7 linked regions of the Homo sapiens genome follow. The protein of the gene in region 3 purifies or fractionates together with the protein of the main gene of each other region. This does not show direct contact. Each region holds a gene or a part of one and is shown on either strand. Other genes may lie near its edges. The genes, in order: BTK, EPB41L1, AP3S1, SPG7, ESF1, EPB41L3 and FNDC3A.

The links.
Region 1: the proteins of AP3S1 (region 3) and BTK purify together in Homo sapiens (co-immunoprecipitation; one large-scale study listed by IntAct). This does not show direct contact.
Region 2: the proteins of AP3S1 (region 3) and EPB41L1 purify together in Homo sapiens (co-immunoprecipitation; one large-scale study listed by IntAct). This does not show direct contact.
Region 4: the proteins of AP3S1 (region 3) and SPG7 purify together in Homo sapiens (affinity purification with mass spectrometry; one large-scale study listed by BioGRID and IntAct). This does not show direct contact.
Region 5: the proteins of AP3S1 (region 3) and ESF1 fractionate together in Homo sapiens (co-fractionation; one large-scale study listed by BioGRID). This does not show direct contact.
Region 6: the proteins of AP3S1 (region 3) and EPB41L3 purify together in Homo sapiens (affinity purification with mass spectrometry; 2 studies listed by BioGRID and IntAct, with this or other methods). This does not show direct contact.
Region 7: the proteins of AP3S1 (region 3) and FNDC3A purify together in Homo sapiens (affinity purification with mass spectrometry; one large-scale study listed by BioGRID and IntAct). This does not show direct contact.

What each region holds. Positions count from the first base shown.
Region 1 is NC_000023.11:101,372,692-101,376,191, reverse strand, and holds part of BTK (tyrosine-protein kinase BTK), read left to right. Parts: intron 1-877; coding exon of another isoform or gene 878-907; coding exon 908-1,048; intron 1,049-1,557; coding exon 1,558-1,656; intron 1,657-3,500. UniProt on the Homo sapiens protein: Non-receptor tyrosine kinase indispensable for B lymphocyte development, differentiation and signaling. Binding of antigen to the B-cell antigen receptor (BCR) triggers signaling that ultimately leads to B-cell activation.
Region 2 is NC_000020.11:36,230,520-36,233,299, forward strand, and holds the end of EPB41L1 (band 4.1-like protein 1), read left to right. Parts: 3' UTR 1-2,280; downstream 2,281-2,780. UniProt on the Homo sapiens protein: May function to confer stability and plasticity to neuronal membrane via multiple interactions, including the spectrin-actin-based cytoskeleton, integral membrane channels and membrane-associated guanylate kinases.
Region 3 is NC_000005.10:115,865,935-115,869,434, forward strand, and holds part of AP3S1 (AP-3 complex subunit sigma-1), read left to right. Parts: intron 1-735; coding exon 736-827; intron 828-3,500. UniProt on the Homo sapiens protein: Part of the AP-3 complex, an adaptor-related complex which is not clathrin-associated. The complex is associated with the Golgi region as well as more peripheral structures.
Region 4 is NC_000016.10:89,549,903-89,553,402, forward strand, and holds part of SPG7 (mitochondrial inner membrane m-AAA protease component paraplegin isoform 1 precursor), read left to right. Parts: intron 1-591; coding exon 592-707; intron 708-3,076; coding exon 3,077-3,233; intron 3,234-3,500. UniProt on the Homo sapiens protein: Catalytic component of the m-AAA protease, a protease that plays a key role in proteostasis of inner mitochondrial membrane proteins, and which is essential for axonal and neuron development.
Region 5 is NC_000020.11:13,778,420-13,781,919, reverse strand, and holds part of ESF1 (ESF1 homolog), read left to right. Parts: intron 1-3,500. UniProt on the Homo sapiens protein: May constitute a novel regulatory system for basal transcription. Negatively regulates ABT1.
Region 6 is NC_000018.10:5,397,498-5,400,997, reverse strand, and holds part of EPB41L3 (band 4.1-like protein 3), read left to right. Parts: coding exon of another isoform or gene 1-29; intron 30-2,854; coding exon 2,855-2,977; intron 2,978-3,500. UniProt on the Homo sapiens protein: Tumor suppressor that inhibits cell proliferation and promotes apoptosis. Modulates the activity of protein arginine N-methyltransferases, including PRMT3 and PRMT5.
Region 7 is NC_000013.11:48,978,912-48,982,411, reverse strand, and holds part of FNDC3A (fibronectin type-III domain-containing protein 3A), read right to left. Parts: intron 1-3,500. UniProt on the Homo sapiens protein: Mediates spermatid-Sertoli adhesion during spermatogenesis.

The sequences.
Region 1 (3,500 bases), on a different chromosome or scaffold from region 3:
AACTTTATTTGTCTTTCTGTGTTTCAGTTACCTAAATTGAATCCTTCTGGAGTATTGTAGGTTTGGGGAGGCTAAATAAGTTGTGTTTCATAAATGAACAGAGGTGGCATCTATATCAGTAAGACAGTTGCATCACTTTTGCATGATGCTGTCTAAAAGAACTAATTTAAGCTAAATGGGGAAAAGGTCAGAAAACAACAACTACCCCCCCCCCACCAAAACCCACCAAAAAAAATTATGTTTTCAACTTTAGAACAAATCTTCTATCCTTTGTAGCTCAGTCAGTGGGTGTGGGCAAAATCAGTTGGGCAGCAGTTAGTGTGTGTCCAGAACTGCAGGTGCAGCCTCCATATCCTTATTAGTTCCCTTGGTTACAGACCCCAGTGGGACAATGTTTGAAAAATTATATTCACCGTCTAGGAAATTGGGAACTGAAAGTCCAATATCTGCCTCAGTGGAGTTCTGGCACCTGCATTATCCCTTCTGGGTATATCAAGATCAACAGCTGCACAGATACTTTTGCTTTTCACAGATTCTACACATATCATATAAAGGTGAATAGTGTAAAGCTACCTCTACACCTTACCAAGCACACAGGTGCGTGCCATTTAACATCTAGAGCATTCCATTGCCTTATACAAGAACTCAGTTTATATGAGCTCACAACATCGAACCAATCCCCCCCCAATTCAGTGTGCATCCATTATACCTGAAACCTGACAGAGCTGGGGGCTGTGGGAGGAGGTTGGTAGGAAGAAATTATTTTGTGAGCTGTGCACATTTTTGTTCCATTTGAAACTAGGTAGCTAGGCTGAGGGGGAACCAAGAGGGATGAGGATTAATGTCCTGGGTCCTCAGGAACTTTCATTATCAACAGCACACAGGTGAACTCCAGAAAGAAGAAGCTATGGCCGCAGTGATTCTGGAGAGCATCTTTCTGAAGCGATCCCAACAGAAAAAGAAAACATCACCTCTAAACTTCAAGAAGCGCCTGTTTCTCTTGACCGTGCACAAACTCTCCTACTATGAGTATGACTTTGAACGTGGGGTAAGTTTCTCGACTATGAAAACTGAGTTTCAAGATATCAAGGACTTGGCCTTAGATCTTTCTTGGGGAAGAGGTAAATTTTCGTTGGTAGGAGGAGGGGAGTAGAATGGACCTAAGTTCTTTCAAATTCAGCAAAATATTTCCTAGCCTATAACTAGCTAAAGCCGGAAAGTCAAAGGTCCTAAGAAGCCACAAGGAAAATATTACCATGGAATCTTGGAATTGATGAGCACTCATTAAATGATTGTTGAAAATGAAATCGAAGAGTTGGAAATTGCTTCCTTACTTCCTATGAGGAAGGTACATACAGTCATTCACTCTTCCATGGTATTTGCCCTCCATTTGGTAGTCATAGATTTATAGATCTGGAAGGATTTTTTTTTCTTCCCCCACATGACAGGTCCTGGTGCCACCTCACTTTGTTGAATGATTAGATAACAAAATCTAATCATCTGGTTGCTTAATCCCTCTTAATCTTTCTCCATTTTCTTCCTCATTCTACTTCTCAGAGAAGAGGCAGTAAGAAGGGTTCAATAGATGTTGAGAAGATCACTTGTGTTGAAACAGTGGTTCCTGAAAAAAATCCTCCTCCAGAAAGACAGATTCCGGTAAGAAGAGACCAATGTCTGAGATGGGGAACAGCAGATTTGAAGAAATTTGCAACATTTAAATTCTCTGTAAATAGACTGGTGATGCTGTGCAACGTGGAACACGGTCAAGTTTCCTTTAAAAATTCTTCACTCTACCATATTGGTTATAAAGAATCTTAGCTTCTTTCCTTCATATTCAGAACATCTCACTAAACATGGAAAATTTGTTAACACAAACTTTTAAATGATGCTATATCTAGTTTTCAAACTGGTCAGAGATCATTGATTTTATTCCCTCAGTTCTCTCAGGATCAGATTTAGAGGCTTAAGTAAGTCTGAATGTCATAATCCTAGGGCTCTGAGTCACATGATATCCTTTAATACCTTACTATTTATTCTCTTCTCACTTTCCGGAGCGAGAGACATAAAACCTACTGATTTTTGAGTTCACTTTTAAAAAATATATATCAATTTCAGTATTTTCTTTTTTTCTTTTTTTTTTCTTTTTTTAGACAGAGTCTCGCTCTGTTGCCCAGGCTGGAATGCACTGGTGCCATCTTGGCTCACTGCAACCTTCACCTCCCGGGTTCAAGCAATTCTCATGCCTCAGCCTCCCAAGTAGCTGGGATTACAGGTGTGCACCACCATGCCTGGCTAATTTTTCGTATTTTTTTAGTAGAGACGGGGTTTCACCATGTTGGCCAGGCTGGTCTTGAACTCCTGGCCTCAAGTGATCCGCCTGTCTCGGCCTCCCAAAGTGCAAAGATTACAGGCGTGAGCCACCCACTGGGTCTGACCATTTTCAGTATTTTCTTGATCACAGGAGAATTGCGTATTTATTACAGAAACTCTGGAATATATAAAAAATACAAAAAGATTAAAATGATGCATAATCCTGTTACCCAGTTAAAACAACTATCAACATATTGGTGTACATAGACTTACAGATGTTTTTCTTCACTGAGAACACATACGCATACACTTATATATATGTCATATATTTAAAACATAGACTCATAGTACACATCTTGCTTTGTAACGTACTTTTTCAATGTAACGATATGTGGGAAACTTTTCCCCATGACAATAGATATTCTTTAATAACATGATTTTAATGACTGTATGGTATTCCCTATTATGGATGTATTGTAATTTGTTTAATCTCCCATTATTACACATTCGGTTTGTCTACAAGTACTTGATAGTATAAACCATGTTGAGAGGAACAATCTTGCATACATCTTTCTGTACTTTTTTTATTCTTTTCCTTATGATAATTTCCTAGAAGTAAAATTTTGTTCTTCTCTTTAAGAAAATCTGTGCACTTTGGTTATTTTTATCTTTTTATTTCATTTTCTAGAAGTGGAATTGAATTTCATACACACCTACAAGCTATGTATGAGAGTGCCTGTTTCTGTACATTTTTTCCAACACTAGATATTTTGTTATTTTTATTATTATTATTATTTTCTGAGATGGAGTCTCGCTGTGTCGCCCAGGCTGGAGTGCAGTGGTGCGATCTCCGCTCACTGTAACCTCTGCCTCCGGTTCAAGTGATTCTCCTGCCCCAGCCTCCTGAGTAGCTGGGACTACAGGCGCCCACCACCACACCCTGCTAATTTTTGTATTTTTAGTAGAGATGGGGTTTCACCAGATTGGTCAGGCTGATCTCAAACTCCTGACCTCAAGTGATCCTCCCACCTCGGCCTCCCAAAGTGCTGGGATTACAGGCGTGAGCCACTGTGCCCAGCCCAACACTAGATATTTTAAATATTAGTTAATTTGACAGCCAAGAAAAATAGCATTTCAGGTGGGGCGTGGTGGCTCACGCCTGTAATCCCAGCACTTTGGGAGGCCAAGGC
Region 2 (2,780 bases), on a different chromosome or scaffold from region 3:
GGGGTGGGGGGCCCTAATGGAGAGGTGTGGGTTTGGCAAGAAAGAAGCAACACAGATGTCGTCCCCAAAATGCCAGTTCAAGACACCTTCTCCCTGCCCCCCTGGTAGTAACAGTCAGGGCCTGGTCTGTGCTCAGGTACTGGGTCCCAGTCTGGGACTCTGCTGCTGAAGTTGCCACAGTAGAGGTCCCTGGCTTAGTCCTTATCTCCCTACGGGGCTTGCCTTGGTTTTCAGTCTTCTCTCTCTTTCTCTCTTTTTTTTTTTTTTGCCACATTCTGCCCTTCCCTGACCCCATTGTAATAACCAACTCCATATCCAAAGGGAGGTGGTGCTCTCAGCCATTGTAGAAGATGGTGGCTTTAACCTGACTGTCTAAAAATTCCCAGCTAAGCCTTTTCCTCTACTCTCTTCCTTGTTCTGAATCATTTCTTCTTCTCAGGCCAAAGTAGCCATGGTAAGGAGGCTTCATGGGGCAGACCCTGAAAGATCAAAACTGCATTTGCAAAGCCCTCCCCTGTCCCAGGACAAAGCTGAGACTGACGGGTGATGTTGCTCATAGGCTCCAGCTCTGCATAAGACCTTGGCTTGGAGACCTCCCTCTCAGTCAACAGCTGAACTCTGAGCTTGTGCCCAGAAATTACCCCAAGACCACAGGAACCCTTCAAGAAGCTCCCATCACAAGCTTGGCATTGCTCTCTGCCACACGTGGGCTTCCTCAGGCTTGTCTGCCACAAGCTACTTCTCTGAGCTCAGAAAGTGCCCCTTGATGAGGGAAAATGTCCCACTGCACTGCGAATTTCTCAGTTCCATTTTACCTCCCAGTCCTCCTTCTAAACCAGTTAATAAATTCATTCCACAAGTATTTACTGATTACCTGCTTGTGCCAGGGACTATTCTCAGGCTGAAGAAGGTGGGAGGGGAGGGCGGAACCTGAGGAGCCACCTGAGCCAGCTTTATATTTCAACCATGGCTGGCCCATCTGAGAGCATCTCCCCACTCTCGCCAACCTATCGGGGCATAGCCCAGGGATGCCCCCAGGCGGCCCAGGTTAGATGCGTCCCTTTGGCTTGTCAGTGATGACATACACCTTAGCTGCTTAGCTGGTGCTGGCCTGAGGCAGGGCAGGAAATCAGAATAGCATTTGCTTCTCTGGGCAAATGGGAAGTTCAGCGGGGCAGCAGAATCAGTGGCATTCCCCCTGGTGCAGGCCGGTGGGTCCACTCCAACTCCCCCTGAGTGTAGCAGCACACTTTCCATACACCAGGTTCTTTCTACAATCCTGGTGGAAAAGCCACAGAACCTTCTTCCTGCCCTTCTTGAGAGTTCCCCCTCTTTCTGGGTCAAGAGCTGGAGTGGTGGCTCCATCCTCTCTGGGCCACTTCGGTCTAGGAACTCATCTTTGCAGGAACCAGGAGTCCTGAGCACACTGAACACACCTCAGAGGGAGGATCCTTGTTGTGGATTTTGCACCTGGCTTTGGGGCAGGGGTGAAGTGACCAGGCTTAGCTTGTGGAGTTTATGGGCCACCAGGGTTTGGGGAAATCACCATCCCGCGGATGCTGTGACCTCCCTTCTACGGAGATGCAGGCAGTGCCACGAGGGAGGAGGGGACCTGCAAAGCTAGAATCTAGGGCACTGTTTCCTCCCCATCCTTCTCTTTGTAGAGAATAGAGACGTTTGTCTTGTCTGTCTTCAACCTACTTTTCCTTTTCTCTTTTTTGTTTCTCATCCTCTCTGTGCCACCTCTCCACCCAGGAGGCCATGTAGCATAGTGGAAAAAGTCCCTGAGGGCGGTTAGGAGTTCTGGGTGACCATCCTGGCTCAGCTCCTAACTCACCATGTGACATCAGGCTATCCCCATTCCCCCTCTTGGGCCTCAGTTTCCCGACTTGCAAAATAAGCAGAAAGAACCAGATGCTCTCCAGGGTCTTTTTCTACTTTGCTATCTCATGGGTCTTCATTTTCTCTTATTTTGTTTTCTCTGGATCTTTTCCATCTGAGGGTACAGGAAGTACCAGGACCTGTTTCAGTTTTTGAATCCTGCAAGCACATTCCAAGACTGGCCTGAAACTGCATGAGCAACATCACTCGAAATAATTTTTTTTTTCAAAAGCACCTTAACAACCAATTGCGATGCTGTCCTGTTCCTTTTTACTCACACCCTTCTCTCCTTTCTCGTCCCCATGCTCCCCCACCTCAGTGCTCCGTGCTGTATGCGTGTGCTCTCTGTTCTTGTATACTCAATATAAGTGAAATAAATGTGTTTGATGCTGAACCATACTTCCTTGGCACCTCTCCTCTCTCTCTCTCTCTCTCTCTCTCTCTCTCTCTCTCTCACTGTCTCTCTCTGACTTTGGCCACTGGTACAAGTTGGCACTGTGGGAGGGGCTAAAACTGAAGTGGAGACATCCCAACTTAGAACATGTTTATGCAACAAATATTTGGAACTCAAGGTGGTCCAGGCCTTGGGTGACTCTCCAGGCACAACACAAACAAGACAAAAGTCCCTGCCCTTCATGAACCCACAGGCTAGTGGAGGAAACAGATGCCAACACAGGCAAACAGTCCGTTACAGAGCACTCAGCACTAGGAAGGAAATACACCGGGAGAAGGGAAGGAGGGTCACTGAAGGAGACCACTTTAAATACAGTGGCCAGGTAAGGCCTCCCTGAGGAGGCGATCTGTGAGCTGAATGAAAAGAAGGATCAATCAACAAAGGCGAGGAACTTTGGTGCACATTCTAGGAGAGGGAACAGTAAGCATACAGGCCCCAGGACGTG
Region 3 (3,500 bases):
ATTACAGGCACGTGCCACCACACCCAGCTATTTTTGTATTTTTAGTAGAGACGGGGTTTCACTGTGTTGGCCAGGATGGTCTCGATCTCCTGACCTTGTGATCCACCCATCTCGGCCTCTCAGAGTGCTGGGATTACAGGCATGAGCCACTGTGCCCGGCCAGGACGCTGACTCTTACTGGAATATGAATTGCTTGGTCCAGGTTAATAAATGTTTATTGACCCAATCCTTGGCTTTAGATCGGCTTATATAAAGATGAGTAAGATGGATGGACTCTTACCTCAGTCTATATTTAGTAAAGGTTAAACTTAATTGGAAGCTCCATAGTTCTATTTCTTTCCTCCATTCAAATATAGATTAGCTACACTATTTATATCTTTACCTTTCTGATTCAGTTTACTCATTTGTAAGATAATCAGCTTTGACTAGTTAATATCTAGTTTCCCTTTTACCAGTGTATGTAATTCATCTAATATTTTTTCTTGTTGGTTTTTGAAACTTAGAAATGTGTTACTTTTATTATAGTGGTAAATATAAATAATTGGGTTTTTTTTCTTTTTCATCAAAAAATACTGGGTTTTGCTTCTGTAAGGTATAATTTAAGTCACTTCTCCAAGGACCCCTCTCTTAGATGGATTTCCCAGACAGATATTGCTACCTTTGATTTTAAAAATTCTTAAAATGCTATTAAACCTATACACTCCATCCTAATATATATGAATTATTCTTCCTCAGAGTGAAGATACACAACAGCAAATCATCAGGGAGACTTTCCATTTGGTATCTAAGAGAGATGAAAATGTTTGTAATTTCCTAGAAGGAGGATTGTAAGTAAAGCATTTCATAGACATTTCTAAGTTTTGACTATGTGATTAAAATATATACTGTTTAATCAGTTTATGGTAAAAGTTTTCTACTTTTGATTAATTGGATTAGGTGAATTAATTGCCACCTATGTTAGCTATAAATCTAACTTAAAGAATTATTTTTAAAAGATATGCAATCTTTTTTCCTCTTAAAAATTTTGGAAGGGAATTTTATATAAAGGTAATATATTAAATCGTAAAAATTCCAACATTACAGGGAAGTATAAAATGTAAAATAAGAATCTCTCAACCTTAGTCCTTCTACCCAATTTCTTGTGTATCCTTCTAGAAAATAGTTTGTATTGACTAACATATAAAGTATGTTATATGTGTTGACTAACCTACAACCTTAAAATTTTTATTTATGAGATCACACTTTGTATGCTCATTTGCATGTTGCTGGTTCTCAGTATTTTCAAAAGCTTTGCATAGAAACACATCTAGGACAAGCTTATTCTTTTTAATGACTACAGAGTATTCCTTTTTGTGAATGTTCATAAAAATTAGATTACATTCTTTATTTTACTGTTACAAGACTGAAGTCTGTTTTTCAAATATACCTAATTCAGCTAATCAATTTTTCTATTTTTAAAATGAATAAGAATATTGCCAAATATTACAAACAAATACTTTTAAACTAATAACTTCCATGAAAATGGTTTGTTCTCAAACATAAATCAGTCAGAGAAACTTAGAATTTTCTGTATTTTACTGTGTATGATGGATGAGAAATACTCTGGATAACAGGGAATCCATGGTCATAAGGTACTTTTTATCATGTGGAACACTTAACTTGGGTTTCCTGAAAGATTATATCATGCTGTCCTTAAATGTCCAATACATACTTACAAATTTTGCTGTTAACTCAAGGCTTCTAATTTAATAATTGAGACAAGTGTACCTGCTTCTGTTTTTGAATTTTACTTGTACTTATTTAATTTTAGTTGTCTTTGACATTACTATCACTTCCTCTCATCCTAGCCTCTTGATTTCTTATCTCCTAGGAAACTTACCACCCAGCACAGTGCACTGCATGTAAGAACTTGATTAATCTTACTAGGGTGCTATTTGAATTAGAAATTGTGGCTGGAAATTGTGATTGTTCTTTTTTAACCTTACAAAAAATAGAAAGCAAATATTGCAGCAGAGATGAGGCCTCACATCTAGTTTAATCCTAGTTTTGTCACTAACTAGCTGATTTCCTTGGACAGGTTACTTAAATTCTCAGGCCTCAGTTTTCTCCTCTATAAAATGAGTTATTTGGACTAACAGGATTTCTCAGTCCTGTGGTTTTATATGATGTATTACATTCTGTACAGGAATTTTTGTCAGTATTATACTATAGCTTAAAGATAAGATTATATTTTTAAAGGCAAAATATGTACTTGCCGCATTAATATTTTGCTTGCTTTTAATAGCATTACTGGCCTTTTTGAAACTTATATTCTTCAGAAGTTTGCTGTCCTTTTAAAGTAAAGCAAAAGTTTTAAGATAATCACTAAATCGCTGATTCAGAATGGAGTAAAGCCTCCTATTTGTGTTCTTTTTGCCTCTTTCAGGGAACAATTGCAGTCATAGTCTGTAAATATACTCTCAGAATCTTTAAATTGCATGTAGATATTTTTAAATTAAACATCTTCTCTAGAAGAGTATCTAGCATAGTAGGAAATTTTTATTCTTGTCAAAGATCATTTCTCCTTTTGCTATTAGAAGACATAGAAGTAGTATATACCTTGGGAAGTTGTTTCTACAGAACTTATAAGTTTAGTATTATTTTTACTGTGTAAGAAATAGATGCTGGCCAGGCGCAGTGGCTCACGCCTGTAATCCTAGCATTTTGGGAGGCCTAGGCGTGCAGATCTCCTGAGCTCAGGAGTTCGAGACCAGCCTGGGCAACATGGTGAAACCCCATCTCTACTAAAAGTACAAAAATCAGCCAGGTGTGGTGGTGTGCGCCTGTAATTGCAGCTACTTTGGTGGCTGAGGCAGGAGAATTGCTTGAAGCCAGGAGGCAGAGGCTGCAGTGAGCTGAGATAGCACCATTGCACTCCAGCCTGGGTGACAGAGTGAAACTCTGTCTCAAAAAGAAAGAGAGAGAGAGAGACAGAGAAAGAGAGGATGAAGGGAGGGAGGGAGGGAAGGAAGGAAGGAAGGGAGGGAGGGAGGGAGGGAGGGAGGGAGGGAGAGATGCCATTTTCCCATATTCTGTTGGGATGGATGTTAGTTTAATTTTGGTTACATATAGCCTTGATTGTAAATTATGTAAGTGTTTAGGGGTCTTTTAAGAAGGTGAATTCATTATTGTAAACTTAACTATGAAATAGCTAAACTATATTTAGAAAAATATGTTTGGAATGATTCCTAAATTATTATTTCTAAAATACTAAAATTCCAGTCATTATAAATAAAAGTATTTCATGAAAGAGTTTAGTATCTTAGCTCAGTTTTCTTGCATTTATGTCAAAACAATGTAATTTTGGAAGAGATCTTGACGGTAAATCTATCCAAAACTTAAGAAGTGTCATTCTTCTTTTTTTTCTGGTTGATAATCAGTCTTAAGCTGTGTAACTTACTGTGACGTATGGAGTTAAATCTAGTAAGCACTTACAAATGCCCCATGATCTAATTTCCGCC
Region 4 (3,500 bases), on a different chromosome or scaffold from region 3:
GGGCAGGAGGAGACACTCCTCAGAGGGTTGCACTTGTTCCTAAAAGCAGCAGGAGCTATTTCGATGATTGCAACATTTATAAAAGAAGAAATCACGACCTCCTTCAACAGCCCTTTGACCTGAAGAGTGTCGTTTTGAGTTGGGGTGTCCAGAGCCGCAGCTGCAGCTCCAAGAGGCAGATGTGCAGAGAGAGGCTTGCTTTGACCACACGGGGCAGGAGCAGGGCCCAGCCAGGGAGAGGCCGGGGTCTCAGCTCACCCCCCCGTCATTCTTTTTTGTTTGTTTTTTGAGACGGAGTCTTGCTCTGTCGCCCAGCCTGGAGTGCAGTGGCATGATCTTGCCCTACTGTAACCTCCGTCTCTCAGGTTCAAGTGATTCTCTTGCCTCAGCCTCCCAAGTAGCTGGGACTGCAGGCGCCCGCCATCACACCTAGCTAATTTTTCTATTTTTAGTAGGGACGGGGTTTCACCATATTGGTCGGGCTGGTCTCGAACTCCTGTCCTCAGGTCATCCGCCCGCCTTGGCCTCCCACAGCGCTGGGATTACAGGCGTGAGCCACCGCGCCCAACTCATACCCCGGCATTCTTTCAGGGACTGCCAAAAAGAGCAAGATCCTGTCCAAGGAAGAACAGAAAGTGGTTGCGTTTCATGAGTCGGGCCACGCCTTGGTGGGCTGGATGCTGGAGCACACGGAGGCCGTGATGAAGGTGGGTCTTGGCAGGTGCCGGCTCCACGGGCCTTGGCCAAAGGTGGGTGGGGAGTCCCGCCTGTGTCTGTAGCTGACTGGGGAGTCCCGCCTGTGTCTGTAGCTGACTGGGGAGTCCCGCCTGTGTCTGTAGGTCATGTGAGAGGAAAGCCTGCCACTGTCATGATCCATGGAGCAGGGTGGGTGGCGACTGATGGGCGGGAACTCGGACGTGGGAGGCAGGAGTGGGCTGTGTCACATCGGAGCATGGTGCTGCTACTGGGGTGACTCGTGGAAGGTTACACCATGCAATGGGGTTTCGCTGCCTTTGCCTGTCCACCCCAAATGACTCCTAACATTGGAAAGAAGTGAGTTGAGTGTACATTTAAAAAATACTATTCTAGGCTGGGCATGGTGGATCACCTGAGGTCAGGAGTTCAAGACCAGCCTGGCCAACAGGGCAAAACTGTCTCTACTTCAAACAAACAAACAAAAAACTACTCTTGTAGGCAGCTGTGAACTCGATGGACATTTATTCTTACCAAATGGTGATGTTACAGCTTCTCTAAGACGTGGCTCCACCACCGGGAGTCCGAGTGCTGCCAAGAGGAGGTCTCTACTCGGAACGCAGGTGCCGTCTTTACAGTGGAGCCCCAGGAAGCCGTGCAGGTTTGAGGCTCACCTGAGAAGGCGGCAGTGCTGTGTTCCTACCTCAGGGTTCACTGCAAACAATGCATACGCTGTAGCAGTTGCCAGCTTGGTTTGTCAGTGCTGGTCTCCGTGATTGGTTCTCAGGTGTGAGTTGTAGCAAAGTTGCGTGTTAATCAGAGAGCGTCCTGCCCATCCCAGGGTCTCAGCAGGGCTGAGGCAGCGTTTGGGGACCAGATCCGTGCTGCTCCTTGGCGATGTGCACCACAGTCATGGGACCAGAGCTAGGCCCACTGTGGGGCGAGTGGACACTCAGCTGGGGGTCCCATTTATGGGACACTAAAAAACTCAGCAGTGAACACGACGTTTTAACACGGTATGTCAAGAAATCAAAATTAATGCAGGGACTTTGGGAGGCCAAGGCGGGCAGATCACTTGAGGTCAGGAGTTCGAGACCAGCCTGGCCAACCTGGTGAAACCCCATCTCTACCAAAAATACAAAAGAATTAGCTGGGCGTGGTGGTGCGTACCTGTAACCCTAGCCACTTGAGAGGTAGAGGCACAAGAATCGCTTAAACCCGGGAGGCAGAGTCTGCAGTGAGCCAAGACTGTGCCACTGTACTCCAGCCTGGGTGACAGAGCAAGACTGTCTCTCAAAGGGAAAAAAAAAGAATTTTTACTGTATTTGATGGGCAAAAGTCAGATAGTCACAATGAAAAAGTGAGTCTCTTTCCCAAGGCTCAGTGTCCTGCCAGGAAAAGGTTGTGAATTGGCTGTTATGGTTTTGGTCATTAATGCAATCATCACTGCAGCCGTTATTTAGAGCTTCTTTTTGTTTTGAGACAGGGTCTCTCTCTCTGTTGCCCAGACCGGAGTCCAGTGGTGCGATCACAGCTCACTGCAGCCTCGACCTTCCGGGCTCACACGATCCTCCTACCTCAGCCTCCTGCATAGCTGGGACTACAGGCATGCCCCACTGGTGGCTCGAGTGATTTTTATATTTTTTGTAGCGAAGGGGTCTCGTTATGTTGCCCAGGCTAGTCTCGAACTCCTGGGCTCATGCAATCTGCCCACCTCTAACTCCCAAAGTACCGAGATCACAGATGTGAGCGACCCCGCCCAGCCTAGTTTTAGATTTTAAATTAAGCGTCCTCGGGATTCTCAGAGCACTTGGATGTGGCCATCTCGCCGCCACAATTCTCAGAAGCAGCAGCTGGGCCAGCCCCTGCCCCGTCTCCGTCCGTCTCCCACTCAGCGGTTCCGTGTTGTCGAGTTAGCTCGTTGCCCCGCGCCACCTCCTTGCACACCTGATGTGGGGCTGTGGGGGAGCAGCAGAGGTGAGGACAGCCTCTGCTGCCTCAGCATCGTGGGGTTCTCATTGCTCTGAACCCTCAGTAGCTGTCGCTGGTGTGAGGGGTCAGCGCAGCGGCCATCGGGGGTGAAACTTGTCCTTCGCCTCTCAGCTGTCTTCTACGGGCCTTGTCTTCTTGACTCCCTGCCTGTCTAGTCATGTATGAGAAGACACTTCCCGGCAGTGTGTGAACAGGCACCTGTGGTGGGAACGCTGCTGTCTCTGGGCTGGCCATCTAGAGTGTTAGGATCCCCTGTTGTTGTAGAGGATGCTGCACATTTGCCTTCCTGCTTTGAGACGCTTTAATGACGGAGACCTCTTAGTCCCACACCTTCCTCCTCAAAGCCCACGCATCCTGCCTACTGACCTGGGTCATCTTGACCTTGTGCCAGGTCTCCATAACCCCTCGGACAAACGCCGCCCTGGGCTTTGCTCAGATGCTCCCCAGAGACCAGCACCTCTTCACCAAGGAGCAGCTGTTTGAGCGGATGTGCATGGCCCTGGGAGGACGGGCCTCGGAAGCACTGTCCTTCAACGAGGTCACTTCTGGTGAGGAGCAGCGGCGCGGGCCCTGGAGGTTTCAGAGCGCTTTTCCCTGCATGACTCCTTCTGTTCCAGTGCATGCCATGGGGTGAATCTGGTGTAGACGTAGCTTTGAATTTATTAAGTATTTTGTAAAAGATAAGTTGTGGTCATAAGAGAGTTGGAGCTAAGCAAGACTTCTTAGATAATTTAATTGGACAAAAACTTAACCTATATGCCAACTCTAGACACATTTAATTGGTTAATTGTTGGTAATGGCTACAGGAAACGGAA
Region 5 (3,500 bases), on a different chromosome or scaffold from region 3:
GGCTGACAGAGCGAGACTCTGTCTCAAAAGTAAAATAAAATAAATAGGGTAAGTAGGACTCCGTCTCAAAAATAAAATAAGAGGGTAAGTAGAGTTGAGTACTCATTCATTAATTTGTTCAGTTGCTTTGCCACTAGTATGTGGCAGGCAGAATATGAGTAAGGCGTCGTCACCCATCTCAGGGCTGTCGCTAGCTTATATGATGCCTTTATGCAAATTAGAAAAAGGCATGCTCTCTGGACACACAGAGCTCCCAGGGGTCACACTTTGGTGAAGAGATGGCGCCTTTGAAGCAACAGATTTTTTGCCCCTGAGCAGACACAGCCCCCTCCAGAGTGCATGGCTTGGTGAGTGTAGGATGGCCTTGATTTTAGCCCTTCTTGTCCTTTTATAAATGCCCCTGTGCGGATAACAGCCTGCTAAACTTTGTGCAGTGGCCCCTGTCTAAAGCAACATTGTCTAGTAGAAATACATAATTTTGGATTTTCTAGTAACCACATTAAAAAGTAAGATGAAACAGGTAAAATTATTTTAAATAATATATTTTATGTAACCCAATATATCAAAATTATTTCAATATGTAATCAATATAAAAGTCAATGTATATTTTACATCCCATTTTCTACTCATTTCATACTAATACTATTTTCATATTAATGTCAAGTTAGACAAAACGCATTTCAAGTGCTCCGTTACCACATGTGACTACTGGCTACCATATTGGACAATATAGATCTAAAGTAGAAGAAAGTCAGAACCATAATACAAAATGCAATAATAGTAAGTGCCGTAAAAGATGTTTAGCAGAAAGCCATGGAAATCTGGAGGAAGAAGTCACTCAAGATGTGGTAATCAGAAAAATTCATAGGGGACGCACTACTTTGGGGTGTGGAAAAATTTAAGTTTGAGGACCAGAGTGTGCTACATGGAAAGAACTTTTTGAGCAAAGATGTGATTGGGCATGTTCAGAAGAGGTCAGTAGTCCCGTTTGATTAGATAATAAGGTCTTGAAGGGCCAAAATGAGTAGCAGCGAGAAATGATTGTTTGGAACTAGGTGAGAGACAGCTGGCTCTAGTTTGCATTACGTGTTTACTAATTAAAATTTTTTGTCACCTCCAGCAGCAAGCAATTTTGAGTGTTGATGTTGCTGATAGTTGAAGATGTAACTGAAAACCAGTAGTAGTTCACATGAGCCAGACCTGTGATTACAGGATCCAAGGAGGGGTCTTGATAGGCCGAGAGGTCTTGATAGGCCAAGAGGTCTTGATAGCCCAAGAGTTCTTGATAGGCCAAGAGGTTTTGATAGGCCAAGAGGTCTTGATAAGCAGAGATCACACTGTGAGGGTAGAAGGTATCAGGCAGTGGAGTGAATTCTGGATAGCAAGGACTAGGGAGTCAGTGGTGGTATCCCATTTTACATTTGTAGTGGAACCAGGCAGCAGACCTCTTGAGGTGTGGGAAGAAAGGATAGGAATCCGGTTACTAAAATTGAAGAATAAGATTGGAGTGGGACCGGCAGCAAAGTTGATTTGACACTGAATTAGTGAGGTAAGTTAGTCTAGCATCCACTTCATTTGGGGCACTGAATTAATATAACATAGCTATATAATCCTTTAGATTGATTTTACAGACTTTTTTACATATCTTTTCTCATTTAATTTTCTTAGTTACCTTGAGCAATAAGACTGTATCAGCGAACAAGATTAAAGTGACTTATGTAAGGACATGCAGACCTGGAACTGCAACTCAAGTCTTCTGACTCCTTCTACCCCACCACATTGCTTGCAGTAATTTTGTTGGTTCCACAGTCTAGGAAAGGCATTACTCATAAATAAGGATTACACGGCTCCATATATAATCTTCTGTTCATTATCCATTCATCAGTTATTACAGCAATTACTGTGTGCAAGGGCCTTTTTAAGTGCTGTGAAGTAAAGGTGATGTGAGGACTTGCAGTGTGATATTTGTCATCATGAAATGTTCATGCCCAGCACTTGCACTCCTCAGAATCTATTTTACATAAATAATTGGATGTGTGCAAAGAATGTGCATTGCAGCATTATTTTTAAAATAAAACGGTAACTGGCTGGGCACAGTGGCTCACCTTTATAATCCCAGCACTTTGGGAGACCGAGGCGGGTGGATTGCTTGAGGTCAGGAGTTTGAGACCAGCCTAGCCAACATGGCAAAACCCGGTCTCTACTAAAAATACAAAAATTAGCTGGGCATAGTGGTGCACACCTGTAATCCCAGCTACTTGGGAGGCTGAGGCACGAGAATCACTTGAACCCAGGAGGTAGAGGTTGCAGTGAGCCAAGATCGTGCCACTGCACTCCAGCCTGGGCAACAGAGCAAGACCTTGTCTCAAAAAATGAAAATAGAAATTAAAATGGTAACAAATCATTAAGAGATTAATTAAATATATGCAAACATCTGTGATCTATGAAGTTTTAAAAATAGGTTCCAAAATAACGATATGACCAGTTATTTTAAACAAATTAGTATTTAAATTAAAGAAAAGAAATTTAGGGATATGGTTGTATACTAAAATAACCAGTTATCTTTGAATGAAAAATTACTGCTAGTCACCTTTGTTTTATTTATTAACCATATTTTCCTAACTTTTTTTGGTTTGTAATGATCATTCATTATGTTTATAATTGGGGGAAAATGGTAAAGCAGTTTTTTTGGTTTTTTTTTGTTTTTTGTTTGAAGTAGCTGGATAAGTAGTAATGTTTACAGTCACTACTAGAGCAATACTGTCTAGGAATAGAGACATTTATATTTGTGTAACCCCACATTATCTTGCACAAGGCTGTGTACATTGTGGGCTCTAAGCAGATACTTTTTGGGGTTTTTTATTTTTATTTTTGGAGACAGGGTCTCGCTCTGCTGCCCAGGCTGGAGTGCAGTGGTGCAATCACAGCTCACTGCAGCCGCAACTTCCTGGGCCCAGGTGATTCTCCCACCTCAGCCTTCCGAGTCACTGGGACCACAGGTGCACCCCACCATGCCTAGCTAATTTTTGTATTTTTGTAGAGACAAAGAGTTTTGCCATGTTGCCCAGGCTTGTCTCAAACTCCTGGGCTCAAGATCCTCCCATCTTGGCCTCCTAATATGATGGGATTACAGGCGTGAGCAGCTGTGCTCGGCTGCAGATACTTATTGAATGAATAAATACTCTGAATGCAGTTGATATTGTTAAAAACATTGAAATGGAAGACCTCTTTAAGTCTCTTATGCAACACTTTATTATTATATAACCCAAAGTGTGGTATGTGTACCATTGTCATAAGTGAGAAGATTTTTGATGATACTCAAACTTCTAAAATATTAATAGTTATGTACTGTGTCAACATCTTAGAAAACAATGTAATTACCCTATCACTTCTGTGACTTTAGGAATATTGTTTAGAGCAAAACTAACTTTTAAAAAATTCAATTTAATAAAAAAATGATATTCAAAAATCATGAAAATGGTATAATGACTGACAGTTGA
Region 6 (3,500 bases), on a different chromosome or scaffold from region 3:
AAGGAAGCGCTCCATTCCTTGAGTCTCAGGTAAAAACCAAACATAAAGGATTTTCCAGAAGAAATTGGTCTTCAGACTTCAGTGTCATTAAAATGCTCTTAGTTTTTATTTTCCCTTTAACATTTATCTTGTTTAAAACCAAGGTAGGTACATAATTTTGATTTAGATTCTGGGGAAGGGAAAATTGAATTTTCTTAATATTTTAGTTATCAGTTATGCATCATTTCTTCATGGCTTCTAATCCAAGCTGATTTTTCTCTGTATGTTGTCATTGACTTACTTTCTGATAATAATCTTGCTGAAATGTTGTTTTACTGCCTGTTTTTACCTGTAGAGTCGTGCTAATTTAGATGAAGTTGACTGATTTTGAAAGTTCTGAATTCTTATTGGTTTCCCCACTAGCCAAGTGTGATAAAGAAAATGCAGGAAGGAGACTCTGCTGACTCTGTGGTTACTTCTCGTCAAATAATTTTCCAGAAAACTGTCCCATCAACCCTAGAGGTTATTCTTTCAATTCATTTCATTTAATCTAGCAACAACATGTAGATCAATCTGTAGTGGTATTTTTAAAGGCACACGTATTTCTAGATTTAAGTTTTCAGGCTGTAAAAAACAGAAAAGTTTCTAGAAAACATTCTAGTTTAAAATGTAAACCAGGGCACTCACCTGCTCCTGGTTTGATATCTCTTCCCTCTGTAATCTGTGAAGCTATTAACCTACCTGGTCATATTGTATTATGCCTCCCTGAATACAAAAGTTTCTTAGCTTTCCTTTCTTTTGCCTTATTGGAACTAACACTAAAGAAAGTGAGAGAGAAACTCCTGAGACAGTGAACTTCAGTTGTAAATAAGATTGGAGCGGGCACAATGGCATGTGCCTGTAGTCCCAGCTCCTGGGGAGGCTGAGATGGGAGGATCACTTGAGCCCAGGGGTTCGAGGCCGACCTGGGCAACATAGGGAGACCCCATCTTTTAAAAAAAAAATGTAAGACTCGAACACTGTACAGATCACTGTAAGAGGCTCTAATAGTGTCCTATTTGTGGGAAATATTTCATTACAATGCCTTGAACACAGTCACACTCAATATTTATTGAATAATAAGTGCTATTATGGATTCATTTCCCTGTATAAAGAAATACAATTTACAAATATGGAAAATATTTACATAAATTTGTAGAATGTTGGGAAGCTCTCTGTGATAACAGTATATGAAGTATAGATTATATTTAACGAGGAAAACTTTTATCCCCACACATGTAAAGCTAAGTAACTTATAGAGCAACATCAATAATGTTATTTAATCTTGAAATATAAAATGATCCAAAATTTATCATAAGAGCAAATCTGTTCTTCAAAAAATTTACTGCAAAGTATGTTCCAGTTTAAAGAAGTTGCAACTCTACCTACCGAATGTATTCTGAGCTGAAGTTTATAGTTTATCATTTCAGAGGAGAAGAGATTGCAGCCATAATTATTAGATAATAACATGAGCACTGTATGGTCCCATCACAGACCTGCATGTAGCAGTTGCCCTGATTTTCTTAAAGGATTCTTATTTTAGAAATGAGATACCATCAGAATTTCTAATTTAGCTTTTATATTTCAAATATAGGGCACAGAGGATTGGGTTATTGTAGACAGAATACCAACTGAGGTAGTTGATGGTGATTTGAAAAAGATTGTGACTTACAAGGTGGTGACCGTGAGCAGTAAAACTGGTGATCTCCCAGCTGACATGTTAAAATCTGGCACTATTAAAATGCAAAGCTTCGAAGAATTGGCTCGAGAAATGCAACTGAAAGAAGACAGCAAACAGAAAATATACACTCTAGGAAAATCCTATGACACTGTCTCCGGGAGAATTGTTACTATGACTGGGAAAGCTAAAGAGGGTGAGAAAGTGGAGCAGCCCTCCACTACAGAAGCACTTCAGAAAATGGAGAAAGAAATACCAGAGTCCATGAAGATCATTCCCGGCCTGGCAGAATATGAGGTCCTGGAAACCCTCGCTGATGAGAAATCCAAGAGAGGACCAGAGGTCCAGACGACACAGCGGAAATTGTCCGAATCCCTGGCCCCCATCAAGGAGGCCGAGTCTCGCCGGCAGAGTCCTGAAGAAGATGACCTCAAGAAGGCTCCACAGCTGGAGAAGGATGTGGCCGTCCTCCCTGGCCTGGAAGGCAGACGCTTCAGCAAAACAGAGCAAGTGCCCGAGAGTGAGGTCTTAAAAGTGGGCCTCTTTGGTCCCCGAAGGAAGAGCCTGTCCGAATGGAGATATTCCCAGGAACCAGCCTTTACCGTTGCTACTGCCCATTACGTTACTGAGTCATCCGCCTCCCGAGTAGTGGTAACCAGTGTCACTCATTGGGGCCACAGTTTGCAATTCCAGCATGACAGTTTTTGAGGCAGTCCCCTTCCACCCCAAACCTTTCCGTTTCTCTTGCTGCTTGGCTTTATGTTGAGAGCAGCCAACCCAGCTTCTTAATTTTTTTTCATGGTTAAATCAATACCGCAGTGCAAAGTCAGCATTAAAACACTTTCCATTTTATTTCCAGCTCCCTGTTCCCAAGATGTGATAGTGCTGCTGTGGCTTGCAATGAAGGGGAAAAAATATATATATCTGCTTAAATCGGCGCCACCCTGATCCTAATAACCGTCTCTGCTTTACCAAACAAGAGCACCTGGTTTTCTATTTTATTTCCCATTCTTTTCGTTTCCAAACTCTGAGATTCCTTCGTTCTTCCTCCTCCCTGTCTCCTCTGCCTACGATTTTGTCTAACAAGCTGTGAATGTTTATGTGCCTGAGTTTGTGTCTCTCTTTTGTGCTTGACTCTGCCTCTCTTTGTTCACTCAGACTAAGCAGTCTTCTGGGGAAAAGCTCATGGATGGCTCTGAAATCTTCAGTTTATTAGAGTCTGCGCGAAAACCAACAGAATTCATAGGAGGGGTTACTTCTACTTCTCAAAGCTGGGTTCAGGTGGCCATTTGTTTTCGTCCTTGGTGTTTCTGAATGTGCCCATGTGCCTTTCCTTACCCTTTTTTTGGGCGTGAGTGTGTGGTTGCATCCAGCTGGCTTTGCCTTCAACATCTCAAAGGTGTCTTCACTTATTGTCCTTTGTGTCTGCTTGGCATATCTGTCACATGCCTTTAGTTGCATCTCAAGAATGTACTTCACTATTCGAAAGGCGATCATATTGAGAAATTTTAATAGAATTAAATATCTAAAAGCATTATGTCTCACCAGTTGAGTCTAAGAAAGCAGCCAAAACCAACGTGAATGCGCTGCAATGCTTTGGTTTTTGTTTTGTTAATTGCACTTTATCCTGCCTTCCGTTTGTTTTGCGGATGTCCTGAAGCAGCAGCGCAGGTTCAAGTGCATGCACCAGGGGCAGGGGCAGGCATCAGAGATTTCAGTGGGAGAAATGAAAGCTAATTTATATTTTTCGTCAGTGTTTCTGGTTATAAGCACTTGCTGCTGGCTTTAGACATCCTGGCGAGTG
Region 7 (3,500 bases), on a different chromosome or scaffold from region 3:
TTACTAAAGAAACAAAAAGGTACTTCATAAACTATGAAGGTACTATGCTAAAAATTTTTTTTAGGTATATATTACAAATGAAAATATTACATGGAAAAAAATCAAGTCATAAGAACAAAGACATAATTGAGAATGTCTGTCTTAAGAAAACAAAAAAAATTTAGAAAATTTAAACATAAAATCGCAAATTATGAATTTTCACTTTTTATTTAAGCAAATCTTAAGAAAAACTGATTTTAAAGTAAATGAAATGACTAATCCTTCAAGTTATGGCTCAACAAAAGTAGTTGCTGTATATGGCATATACTTCTATAAAGCAAAGCACGTAATTACTTTCTAATAAAAGTCTAAACTGTGATTTAAAGTGTACTTAAATATCTGTTTAGAACCCCTAGAGAAGTAAGATTTTTTTGCCTCCCAAATTATGTGTCTGTCGGTTTAGAATATACATAAACCAATTAAAGTAATCCCTCACTGAAGAAGTAGTGAAGCGAAATCATTTAAGTTTTTAAAAGTTCAAATATATATTAAAATATGGATTCTGAGGAAAGAAAACAGATACAACACTTTTTTTTCCCCCAGCATTTCTGATAGAGGCTGATTAACATACACAATCTAATTTACCAAACTTAGGTAACTTTTACACCAAGGCTTACTTCAAAGTATACATTGCACTTTGTATTTCTAGCAACTAGCACATAAGAGATCTCAAGAAGTGAAGGAGAAAGAGATATGGAAGTCAATCAGAAGTATAGTTCATCTGTAAAATGAGAATACCACCACATATCTGGCAGGTTTGTATAGGATTTTAAAAATAAGCAAGTATAGGTTCTAAAATTCAATGAGCTCAACTGAATGTTTACTGGAAACATACTATGTTTACAGAACTTTGGAGGATAAAGCTTGAACTCTGGTCTTAAAAAAAAAAAAAGGCTGCATTGCTTCCAATATAGTAGCATTAATGTAAGCACTTTTATGGTATGTATTTTAATGCTTTTATAGTTTCCAACATCTCTGTGGGTTCTCACAATATCTTTGAGGAAAACAGGATAGATATTATTCTCTATTTTAATGCTTAGAAAACCAAGATTGCAAGAAACTAACCCAAAATCATATAGGTAATAAGTGGTGAAGTTAGAACTAAGAACTAGACTTTTGAGTCACCATCCAAGGTACTTTAATTTACCTCTTGTTTAGCAAATGGAAACAGCTGGCATGGTGAAGCTGTTTCAAGCATTCACAAAAAAAGAGGGAGGGCATGAATTTCTCCTTAAACTAAAATTTAAAAAGTAAAAATTGTATTAAGTAGCAATTTATGAAGGCTGTTATTTAAATCAAAAGCTTTATATTGCCTTAAAATTACGGTACTGTATGTACTAAGTATGAAAAATGCTAATAATAAATTAAAGTACAAAAGTTAAGTTTCATGATTTTGTTTGGTTGGTTTTAATGTTTTTAACAGGAAGAAAGAAGCATCACTGATTCTGTCCAGGTTGCTTCCCATCTTATACATCTGTACTTTTTCCAGCACCTAATACTAACCCTGATATATGGAATGTACTGATGCCTGCTTAATGAAAAAATGCTCTCATGATGTATTCTTGCTCTCTTGATGCCACAAAAAATACAGTTGCCCCAGCCAATTGATTTGTGCAGCCACAGCGTGAGGCATCACTATTCACCTGGTAATGGCACATGAACCACAGTATACTGAAGGAAACAGAACTGCCTTAGAAATAGATATCTATAAATTTAGAAACTTCAGAGATGTTTCATGTAAATTACTTTTCAAAACAGCTGATACTTATATCCTTTAAATCACCATAACTTATCTTAAAAAAATCTTAATTATTTGTAAAGAGATCTCTAGGTCTTTCTTCCGTGCCTTAATGTGCACATGATATAATCTTTTCTTGATGACTCAAGCTCATCAATGTAAATATCAATTATTAGACTGTTCCATAACAGAGTGATTCTTTCTGGAGTACTGCAGAATGTCCAACTGCTTGTCCCTTTATTAACTCATCCTAGACTACTTCTAAAAACAAAGATCCCTACTGCCTGCTCCTCTGTTGTCACTTACAGACCACCAGCATCCTAGACAAGGTTTTTAACCTGCCAGCTGTTTTTAAAAATGTAAAACCAGCACAGGCAGTTGATACACCTAACCTTATACAAATTCTAAATCAAGCCACTGTGTAGCTATTTTCACTGTAGTAAGGCCTGACTCAAAGGCTTTTCGTCTTTCACTTCCTAATTCTGAGACCTATTCTAGGCTCTTGTTAGAAGTCTGGCCACAAAATAACAATTACAGAAGCACTTATTTCTACATACTTTTTTTTTAGGATAACATAAGGAAAAATATATACATGATAGTCATAAAACGCCCAAACCACCATATAGACAAGATGATGCAAGAAATTTCACAGTATGTGCTATATGGACAATTACTTTGCCAATTATTACCTAGCAGTCAGCAAACTAGGTCCCCTGGCCAAATCCAGTCCACAGATGGCTTGTTTTTGTTTGGCTCTTGAGACAACAATGTAAAAATTTTTACGTTTTTAAAAGATTATAAAAAACTAACAAACAAACAAGAACATTCAACCGAGACTGTAAATGGCCTGCAAAACCTAAAATATTTAATTATCTAGCACTCTACACAAAAAGTTGGCCGACCCCTGACCTAAGCCATACAAACAAACACATATAAGCTATCCATTATACATAAAGCTTAAGCTATTAATATGTCAAAGCTGAGGTATAGTTCTTTCAGTGATAGGTTCCTAATGATACAAACTGTCTTGTCCAGCTCTGCCTATTTTCCTCTTCTGATGCCCTGGTGCTTAAGCTAACATCTCGACCTAACTTTCTTTCTTTCTTCGTCCCAATTTCTGTCCTTGGATGCTCTTGGACTACTTATTCTACTACTACTTCCAACTCTGCCTGTGAATCTCTTTTGGAATGCCTTTCCTTTTGTTATCTAAATCATTTCTAAGTTTCCTCTGACTCCCTCCAAATGCCTTCCAGGATTGTTCTAGCTCTCACTGGCTTCACTTCCCTTTAAATTCCAGTTGGTGTCACACAACTTAATAATACCATATTATAATTTTTGCTAATGATACTATTAGTCTAGTACCCCCAACTAATTTGTAAACTACTTGAAGGAAGGAAGACATCACACTATGTTTGTATCCCCACTTTAATAACATTGCATCACCCTGCAAGCACATGACATCTCCCAGGTGTAGTTCTCAATCTTGGAGGAAAAAATAGCCCAAGGACTGGTAATGGGTGATAAGTGATTGGAAACATTGAAAGATGACACCCACAAAGGAACTTGATGGAAGACCACAGGTTACACAGAAAACTTGAAAGTATATATTAAAGACAAGCAAAACCACAACAGTGGGAAGACAGAAAGGTAAGAATAAAGATATAAAAAGAGACCACTGAATAATTATCTGAAATAAGACCAAAATATTAAGAAAATTATAAAA